Regions from separate parts of the Homo sapiens genome. Here region 1 is linked to region 2. A link means that fine-mapping ties the variant in region 2 to the plasma level of a protein whose gene starts in the linked region. Region 2 holds a variant in brackets. A gene starts in the other region. All regions are shown on one strand. Distances are from middle to middle. Region 1 holds the start of DDAH1 (dimethylarginine dimethylaminohydrolase 1). Region 2 overlaps LINC01221 (long intergenic non-protein coding RNA 1221).

The links. PIP is the chance, under the fine-mapping model, that this variant and not a neighbour inherited with it causes the effect. Protein levels are from antibody-based Olink assays in UK Biobank. Linkage for the fine-mapping came from a reference panel and not from the study's own genotypes, which makes the PIPs less certain.
Region 1: it holds the start of DDAH1, and the variant in region 2 is fine-mapped to the plasma level of the DDAH1 protein (UK Biobank, PIP 0.97).

Annotation. Positions count from the first base shown.
Region 1 is chr1:85,462,004-85,467,386 of GRCh38, forward strand. DDAH1 (dimethylarginine dimethylaminohydrolase 1) reads right to left here and starts at 3,156. Exons shown (of 6, transcript NM_012137.4): 1 at 2,740-3,156. The coding sequence starts at 3,042. RefSeq lists silencers at 2,565-2,764, 3,005-3,414.
Region 2 is chr1:199,039,354-199,044,736 of GRCh38, forward strand. LINC01221 (long intergenic non-protein coding RNA 1221) reads left to right here. Exons shown (of 3, transcript NR_126351.1): 2 at 2,203-2,319. Among named protein-coding and RNA genes, the nearest start is that of LINC01222, 23 kb to the left of the region's middle. The variant C/T (reference allele first, on the strand shown) is at 2,239.

The sequences.
Region 1 (5,383 bases), 110 Mb before region 2:
TTAAAATAGGAATTATGATAGTATTGAGTTCAAAGAGTTGATGTGAGTATTAATGAAATGCACATCATAAATCTGGTATGGTGTATGGCAAGTGGCAAGTACCCAATAAATATTAGCTAATAATAGTGATAACAGTAAGCTGAGAACTTAAGACAGATAAAAGGGAAGAGAGGAAAGAGGAAGAGTACCCGGACAAAATAAAAGCAATAGTCTGGTGAGCTTCAGTGAAAGAACCTCGCTCGATCCATGGATCAGGGGATGCTTGGGGTGGGATCAGAGGTGAAGCTGAAGCTGGAAAGGCAAGCACAGCCCAGCTCAATGGGTTTATCTAAGCTCAGTGGGGGCCCCTTGAGAATTTTAGTCAGAGAAGGGACAGGATCAGATCTGAGTTTTTAAAAGACCAGCTTGGCTACAGTGTGGGAATGGAATGGAAAATTGACAAGACTAGAGGCAGAGATCAGTGACAATAATTTTAAAATAATTCCTTGGCTACTGTGGATTTTCACAGTTGGGAATGCAGACATCACATGAAAAAAATATACAGCAATCCATAGAGGGTCTTGAAGTAACTATCTTCTTGTATTAGCATTTCATTCATCATTCATTCATTCATCCACTCACTCAACAAGCATTAACACCTACCAAGGCGGTGAGCTGGTGCCGTGAGAGATTTCTACAAGCATTGCCCTACATGACTCTGCCCTCCAGAAGCATCCCATCCAACACTGACTGCCCATATTCCTCTCCCTGCCTGGGAGGCCTGTTACCCTGGTGACCCAGATCATGTGCAATGCAAAGGCAGGCACCAGCAGGAGACCCAAACCCAGAGGCAGTATCACATAGTAGAGAGATGTCACTAACTACATCAGTGTATAGCTGACTTCTTATTAACGGAGTAAATCTTCCCTGATCCATAGTTAAGTGAATAATAATAGTCAACATTCATCAAATGTCCTGTCCTGTGAATTTCAGGTAGATTAATACATCTATTACAACAACTTTGTGAAACAGGTATTATTATGTCCACTGTATAGATGCGAAAACTGAGGCAAGAGACACTCCCTAAAGGTCACAGAATTAGAAAGTGGTAGAGCTGAGATTCAGTCTAATGTTTTTATCCACTACACCATGTGACTTCTGGCAGTGGGCCACCAGGCTGATATCAGAATTAAACCAATTTAAAATGTATGCTTCAAAATCTAGGCAGGGGAAAAAGATCACTGCTCACTTAGGTATCAGGGAGGCCAAAGCTTGGAAGCTTTTATTATAGGAATAAAATGAAATGGGTGAATAAATATGGTGACAGTCTCTTGAGAAGAAATTGGACTACTCTCATCAAAAGAGTGCCATTTTGAAAGGGTTTTGAAATCGATTTTGCTCTTTTAAGTTCAAACCATAGCTCTGCCATTTGGCCTAGAACGCATTAGAAAGTATTCAAATGGGATTACATTCCTTATCAGTTTAAAAGAGTGGGACATCTCACAGACTCAAAGATGGAGAGGTGTGGCAAAGACATCAAAGGGCTAGCAGAGATCTGTTACTCTTTTGGTTTTCTGTTAATGGAGGGTGAAATAAAAGCTGATTATCTCGATGAGAAATTAGTAGAATATGCTTATTTTCTCAGACCATGTGGCATTCCATCAACCAAGTAGTGGAGCAGGTGAGGAATAAGCATATTTTATCATAAGCTCTATGAGGCATTTCCAATGTGAAGTGAATACAGACAAAATAGAAAAAAAATTCTTAAATCTCCAGAAATGAAAGAAACCACTAGCTTCTTGCAATGCCACTGGATGCCAATAGCAACGGAGTCTTGAGCCTGGGCTCTTAACTGGCAATGAGAAGAATCCCAGGCCAGATGGCATTTTAAAATCCAATCTCACTCTATTTGTCTCTCCCCACTAACCTACATTGCACTTAAAGCAATCAGCCATTTCACAAGCTGCAGTATTTCAAAGTAGTTACAACCCTTGAGAACAGAAAAACTCTCTTAATTGCTGTGAGTTTAAAAATATAGAGAATAAAAATTATGGAATTTGTGAAACAACCATCTCTAATTAAACACGCTCGCTAGCACACACACCCAACACCGCACAGAGTACAGCTTTTCAAACCTAGCCCATTCATGCACACATTTAGCACAGCTCACCAACAAAACACTTTTCCTTCCATTCATTCACTTACTAGTCCCGTTCTTTGGGACTCACTCGCCACCACTGAAAACTAACTTGAGAAGCCCCAGGTCTGTGGGCACCGACACCCCGTTAATTCATCCAGCTTGTCCTGCTCCGAGCGCCAGGCAGGACTTGGGGGCTTCGGTGTCACGACTGGCGCTGCCCCCTGGAGGGACGCCCAGCCTCCACCCGCCCTACCGGAGCGGCACCCCTCGCGGCCCTCGCTCCCTGGGAAACACTCAGAGTTGCACTGTCGTCGCTGCCGTTTAATTTTCACAAATAAAAATGCCCGTGAGACGGAATCCCCCGCCCACCCACCTGCCCGAGACCGTACAACCACATTGAATCGGATCCTCCAGAAGGCTGCCGGCAGCCGGGAGGTGTGAACAATGAACTTCTCTCTGACTCTCTGACACACACACACACACACACACTCGCCCCCCGACGGGAAGTTGTGAACTACTAGCCCGAGGGCCAATGGCGCGACTCCCCAGGCAACACGGCGGCCGGCGGCGGGGGAGGGCCTGGCGCGCGCCCCGGCCGCGCCCCTCGAGTCGGCAGTTACCTCCTTCCTCCGGCTCGGCGCCCCGGGTCGGGTGATGAGGGCCGTCTCCTCGCACACCACGGCCACGTCCTCCACGAAGACGCAGTCCGGAAGGCTCTCGTCGGCCGGCAGCTCCACCACCTGCAGCCCCAGCTTGCTGCCCAGCACGCCCACGTAGAGCTGGTGCTGCCGTTCCGCGCGGGCGACGTCCACCTCCTCGCCCTTGGCGCTTCTCAGCGCGTGCTGGCCGAGCGACTCGGGTAGCGCCCGCACCACGGCGTGGGTGGCCCGGCCGAAGGCGGCGGGGTGGCCGAGCCCGGCCATGGCTTCGGGAGGCTTAGGGGCGGCGGCGGCGGCGGAGGCGGCCGGGTCCTGCCGCGGGCAGCGCGCGCTGAGCCTGCGAGCGCCCGTCGGCTCCTCTTGGCAGCCGCTGAATGTGGTGCAGAAGGAGCCCAGCTCGCGCCCGGAGCCCTGCCCGCGCGACTGAGCATGCCCAGAGCTCCGGGCGCCGGCCCGCGCGCATCCCGCGCGCCCACTCCGGCGCTCGCGGGTCTCGCGCCAGCCCAGGCGGGAGTTGTAGCGGCGAGCGCCGGGCGAGGAGTGGGGCCAGGAGAGGCGGCCGGGGAAGCAGCGAGGGCAAGAAGTATGCGGAGGCGGGGGACCTCGGCGAAAAGCCACCGCTACCCGGACCTGGCGGTACCTGTGTTCTGTCGCAGGTGCACACCTCCCATCGTCCCCAGCGCGGACTTGGAGAGCCGGCCTCGGTCTGGACAGAGCAGCTGGAGGGCTTCCTGGTCTTTACCTGAACAGTTTAAACCTTGCGTGCTTACAAAGTCTAGCCCACTTTTGAAGAGCTATAATGGTTTACAGATTCTTCATGTTGAGCTTAAATCCCACGGGTCCCAGTTCTGTTTTCTGGCCTTACCTAAAGTACAAGTTTTTCTTGTTTTGTGTGTGTTCGCGTGTGTGTGTGTTTTCACAAAACAGCATTTGCATATCTGAAAACAGTTCTAATTATCTATGCTGCCTAACACCATCCTCTACCCCCCACCCTAAACCCCCTCCAGTCCTGGAGCCCAAACCACTGAAAAGTAACTAGTGATTTGGTTTCCAAGTCCCTTCAACATTCTGGTCAGCTTCCTTTTGATACACACCAATTTGCTTGTATCCTTTTAAAATCATAGTATCCGGAAAATAAACAATTCTTCCTGTGTGGTCTGACCAGCACAGACTACAGCAGCACCCTTGTTCCAGATGCTGGGCCTCTATGAACACTGCCTAAGCCTGTATTCACTTTTTTGGTGGTCTAGGGCCAAGGCCCAGGCTACAGCCTTCTTGCCAGAACTCTGATCCCAGCTTTTAGGAAACTCTGGATTTCTAGGAGCAGGTCTCTCTGAGCATCCTAGAATGGTTGCCCCAACTGAGCCCAGAGATGTGATCTGCCTTCTCTCCCCTCCCACAAGGGTGGTGTGAATTTATAAATGAGCTTCAAAATTCTCAGCTTCACATTTGAGGAGTTTTTTTTGTTTTTTGTTGTTGTTTTGTTTTGACGGAGTTTCACTCTTGTTGCCCAGGCTGGAGTGCAGTGGCACGATCTCGGCTTACTTCAACTGCTGCCTCCCCAGTTCAAGCAATTCTCCTGCCTCAGCCTCCTGAGTAGCTGGGACTACAGGTGCACGCCACCACTCGCGGCTAATTTGTATTTTTAGCAGAGACAGGGTTTCACCATGTTGGCTAGGCTGGTCTCGAACTCCTGACCTCAGGTGATCCACCCGCCTCCACCTCCCAAAGTGCTGGGATTACAGGCATGAGCTACCACGCCCTGCCCAAATTTGAGGAGTCTCAAGGACAGCTCTGACACTGACATTGGGAAGTGGGACCAAAAGTAAAATAACAAACCTTTAAGACCGACTAGGTAGTACTTCTAAAGCAAAATTCTTAGGGGATCCAGGCAGCCCCATTAGCCCCAGTTTAGCGTCAGAAATCACTTAATGGTGTCCTCAGATGGAGGATTTCCATCAAAGTTACAGGTGAAAGTTGATCTTTTACCTTAAGCTTGCCCTGGTTAAATATAAAATTTATTTATTTTTAAATTAGTTCATTATTTATTCTTTTTTTTTTTTTTTTTTTTTTGAGATGGAGTTTCGCTCTTGTTTCCCAGGCTGGAGTGCAATGGCGCGATCTCAGCTCACTGCAACCTCTGCAACCGGGGTTCAAGTGATTCTCCTGCCTCGGCCTCCCGAGTAGCTGGGATTATAGGCATGTGCCACCACGCCTGGCTAATTTTGTATTTTTAGTAGAGACGGAGTTTCTCCATGTTGGTCAGGCTAGTCTCAAACTCCTCAACTGAGGTGATCCGCCTGCCTCGGCCTCCCAACGTGCTGGGATTACAGGCGTGAGCCACTGCACCCAGCCTATTTATTCTTATTATATATTGTTTATTTGTTTAGCTCCCGGGTTAAATAAAGTATAGGACTTCATTCTGCTCTTTACTGCAGACTTTACCAGACATTGAGGCTCCATCTGTCTCTAGCTGGCCACCATCTAGCAATCTTCATTCATGCCTGTGCCTTGTTGGAGCCTGAATATTTCACCTACCACTCAGTGCCCTGAGTCTAACTATGAACAGGGTTCTGTGTACCACTCTGGGCTCATGTCAGTCTAG
Region 2 (5,383 bases):
GTACTCTTTTGGACAGAGGAATTTTTTTTCTATCTTCTGTTCAAAGAATAAAAGCAAATATGAAGGCATATAAAATATTTGGAAAACACACTCTAAATTTGGTGTATTCAATAAAGTATAAAAAGGATAAAATAATAAAAGCTGTTTTGCCGAAGGTAATATGAGTATCTTGTAGCTCTTCTCTTAAAGAAGTGATTCTGAAATGTTTTAGCATTTACTTTATCAGAATAATAAACTCATCAGATGAATGCCCCTGCACCCACTTCATATATAACTGACCACTGCCTAAAGCCATGGACTTCCTAGCAGAAATCTCTCCCTGATGTTCTATCTCCTATCCCAAACCATTTCACAGTTTAGACAGGCAACTGAGGCAACTACACACAGATGTGATATATACCTCAAAAGTTTTGTAAGAAACTTTTATGGAGTTTCAGATGAGGGGAAGGCTTTGTCCTGTTGGAAGAATCTGAGAGTTCCATGCTGGAAATTTCATTTCAATTTGAACCAAGGAATGGACTACACTGGATCTCAATAGGAACAAGCTGGTTGAGCATATTCCAGACAAAGGACTAATGTGATCAAAAGATCAGAGAAAATAAATCTCTGACATGACTGGTGACCAGGTCAATTCATCAAACAGGTGGGTCAAGAAATAATGCCATTTGAAAAAAAAAAAACGTTAGAAAGTTGGTTGGGATTGCATTATAGATACCCCTGCATATCAGATTACATTTTGAAAGATTTTTGCTCTTCATAAAGGAAACTGTGGCAAATATTCAAAGAAATTTGTGATCTTATTAGAGCTGCATTAAGAAGATTAATATGATTAAATTCATAGGATGGAACAAGAAGAGAAACTAGAGGTGGGCAGAGAGAGGCAAAAGCCCAAACTAGGGTGGGGACATTGAGAATGGAAAGGAAGTGACATATTGTGAAAGAAAAAACACAATTTGTGGTTACTTAAATGTACAGAAAAACAGCATAAGCAGATTCTTAATCAACAATTTGCCAATATTTGTTTTACATATTAATAGAGCCGAAGGGTGTTTTCATAGTTTTAGGAGGTGCTTCAAGAGATCTGTGCCATATCCTTCTCTGGAATGTTCACAGTGTTAACACATCAAAGTCTATGAGAACACCTGTGTAAAGATACCAACTTAACTTTATTTCAGCAAGAAATTATCCAATTTATTCCAGTAGATATTGGCATGTCTGTAGTTGTATGTGGAACACCTATTCACAGTCTAAAAACCTAGTATTCTTTAGTACACACTTTCTGGTGCTTAGAGCAATAACAAACATTAGCTGTCAGTTCTGCCTTTTGTTGAGACAGAGCCATACTTTCTTGTCATTTTTATTCCACACATGTCATTGCTTATCAGTGTGTGCTTATTGAGGGGAGGGGTAATTTTGAGCCATAACATAATTTATGTTATTGAATCATCAAATATTTTGAACTAGAAAATGTTCTAATCTAGCATCACTCAGTTAAAACTCTATTTGAAAATATCTTGGAAACATATAACAGAATGAAAACCATAAGAACAAAGACCATAAATCCAGAAAATAAAAATGAATGAAAAGATCAAGATATAATATACAAATGACAGTTAAACTTTTATAATTCCTTAATTTATGAAAAATAATTCAAATACATTTAGTATTTTACAAATGAGCAGGTAAAATAATTATGATTTTTAAAGGCTATATTAAGATATTATTTCTTTATAAGAAATGTAGACATAATACTTATAATTTGTTTCTGCAGTTAATAATTAACATGGGTCTTTTTTTAGATGAAAAATCTTGAACATGTAAAGAAAAGTCTTGACATTATTTATTGTATTAGAATAAAGTACTAGAATTCTCTCATTCCTTATTAAAAAATTAAGCCTATGTTACCATGTTTGTCAATCTCATTTGATTTTCTATTCTTAGGTCTAAAGTTTCTAATAACAATTTAATGCATTTATCAGTAAAACACATGCTTAGAATCCAAATGTATTAAAATTTTTGCTAAAGTAAGCAAAATAGACAAATAATGAAATGTTTTTACTTTGATTTTTAGAAAAAAGGTAAAGAATTTTATTCTCTAAGAGAGCAAAACAAATTATCTTATGGTGACACTAAGACAGAAAAGAGTTTGTTTTCATTTCTGGTATTCTTTGCCAATGTTTGACAGTTGAATTTTTTTTCCAGATGAGAATTGTGCATCAATGTTCAAGTCCCAAGAGA[C/T]GTTATCAGTCTGAACAGCCCAGTGAACAAGTATTTGTGACTCTCCTTCCAAATGAAATGTTCTACAGAAAGGTGGAAGTGGTAAGAAACCGTTGAAACAGTGGTTAAGAAGGTAGGTCTTTGTGGTACTGATGGGAAATAGTCGTTAGGGGAAAGCTGCTTCACCACACAGGAAACAGAAAAACTCTTGAATGCATCTTGTCCAGCTGTGGCAGAAGAATTTACATAGATAACATTTTAAAACCAGAGAGTTTGTACTCAACTGGTGACCAAGAAACGGAGAGATGAAGGGCTGCAGGCAGAGAGTAGAAGGGAAATATTTTAAAGTTACAAGACTTACAAGCTGTGCATTTTGCAAATCACATAGCTACTTATCTTCTCAGAAAAGATGTTTAAAATAGAGACCTACACTTTATCATATTGAAAACCAAGCAATCTCAATGAAGGTTTTTAAAAAAATGTTTACCAAACCAAAAGAAACTCAAGGAAGCATTTTATAAGCTAACAGAGCTATTATTGAATGCCTTAAAATGGAAATATTTTTATTGTCTAATTATAGATATTGAAAAAGGTAGTAAGTATAAATATTCATAATAAATATTAAAATAGTAACAACAAAGTTTGCCACTTTTTCTCACTTAAGAGGAACTGATTTGGTTTTGTGATTTCACTTAATTATAATGAAAATTCTATAAGCTCAGAACTGCCATCCACATATTATAGATGAGCAAACAGACTCACAAAGATTGAGGCTTTTGACCAAGCTCCTAGGGCTTAGGCTTTGAACTCAGATGTGATGGAGTCTGAAGCTTGTGCTTGTTAAACATTATTGTGCAACTCCCATCATAATAATTTGAACAGTAACAAAAATAAGTACATTCTGTGTTTGGTTCGTTCTCTCTTTTTTTAAGTTATTTTATTCTTCTTCCAGCATGTCATATATATTATTCTCCATATAAGGAAATATAAGAATATATTCATCCTTATATAAAATGTTGGAAATGCTCTCTTGGAAAGGTTTCTTTGTGGCTTCTGGTTTTGTTCATTACTTTGCTTTTAATGATCATTATTATTATTCTTTCACAATATTGTAACATACTACCAGAGTCATTTTATTGTAAACACTTTGAAAAACATACTTCAACAATAATATTGTGGCTATAACTCAAATTCTCACCCACACGGAAAAATTGTGTGTTTTTGCTATAAAATATACGTGGTAAAAAGAAGTGTGAAGTAGAAAATGACAACAAAGTTGCAATAAATTCATTAAAAGCATAATTCATTGGTCTTTCATTCTATTCTATTCATCTAGTGAATTTATCAGATTTTAAGTGGTTTCTTAAAGCACTTAAAGTAATTTCTTCAAGCAATCTAGATACTATTACTGGGGAAAAACATCTCAAAGGCAAACACTCTTAGTATATCAATCGCTAACTTGAGACCATGTCACATAAAATAGTTGATGTGCATATTCTTTACTTCTTTTTGCCTATTTCATGGGATCGCGTTTGCTAGGTACCCAGTCTAGCAAGAAAGCCCAGTTGACATTTCACCTTCTAATCAATATCTAAGCAAACATTTTGAACACTATCTTCTTTCTTCTCCTTCTTTCCCCGGTCTAAGTACTTCAGGCAGGTGCTATCTGATTTGTACGTGTTTTAGCCATCATTATACCTTTCATTTACATGAAGCCTAGTTCATTTCACATCTGAGGCCTCTTCCAGTTCACATAACTCTCCCAATTACTTCTTGAAAATATGAAGAGTCAATCTCTCTTTCCTTTTTTAAAGTACTTAGAAAACTTCTTCATTTCCTAAATGTTTGGGTGTCATGTTCTAATTGAATTTTCATCAGGCTACAAGATAATTTAAAATGCTACTTTACTGATTTTCTATTTAGGTTAAATACTACTTTCTAATAACATATTTCTGTGTGCTTTACAAGCATGCACAATTCATGCATGATGCTTGTTTAGTCTCTCCCAGAGCTAAGGCAGGCCAAAGAATGATTTAGATATATCCTCTGGGAGACAAACTTTTATGTAGCAGGATGGCTATATTGTAAACATTTAAGACTTGTCTGAAACTCTCTACAACGTCCATATTCACATTGTCACACTGTCCTTTAATACAGCTCTTTTGGATTTTTAAATATAGTAGATTCCTAGGATTAAAGCAATTAAAATGGGAGCAACCACTTGTAGGAATCTAGTCCAATCCTCTTATTTTATAGCTAAGGAAAGTAAGACTCAGCACCATAAACGTATTGAAGATTGGCTCAAGGATCAGGTTGTTTTCTGATTTCCAATATTGTGTACTTATTCTAGTATAATTACTAGCAATTGATTTTTACTCAGTAAGACATTAGGCCCAGGGTCCCAGACCAGATAAAAAAAATAAATGATCAAAATAGCTTGAACCATTTTGGCCTAAATATTTCTGGTTTAGAGAAAAATATGGTATCAATGGATTTTATGAGGCCTGAGATGCAATATTTGAATGTCCTCATGATCACTGATTCACTCACTTTTAGATTTTGAATGTCATTTTAATGGCTTTTAAAGATGATCATATTATTTTGGTCCAGTTGGATCATTAAGGCATTTTTTTCTAAAGTAAACCACATAAAATCACTAAAATGGAATAAATCTAAGTTACAAGGAGGACTAAGACACAACCATGAATGAGTAAATCTAAATTCTATGATTAATGACTTTGAGGACCTTGTACTTGACTTCTGTAACAGCATTTAACAAATCCTTTCATCAGAATCATTTCTCATGCTGTACTTTAAATGAAGTTCTTTGTCTGGTCTAGAGCAAGCTGGAGAAGAGCTGGCAAAGAGCCTTTGGTCACATATTTCAAATTCGTTAAGCATCTTTAATCTTCCCCTTGTAGATAAAATCTCTTCAACCAAATCTCCTAACTTGGTTCAGATAGTTCATAGTTCATAGTTTCTGAATCCCCAGTGTGCTCTGCTTTCTAACCCTGCCTTGCAGTTTCTTCTATACCTTTCATTAAATCCATGATGAAATTTAAAACACACAAGCAGAATGATGTAGGCTATAAGCATTAAGGAAGTTAAGGAAGTTGATTCGCCATTTGTGTTTTCATACTGTTTCTTTGCATTCCTACATCTACAT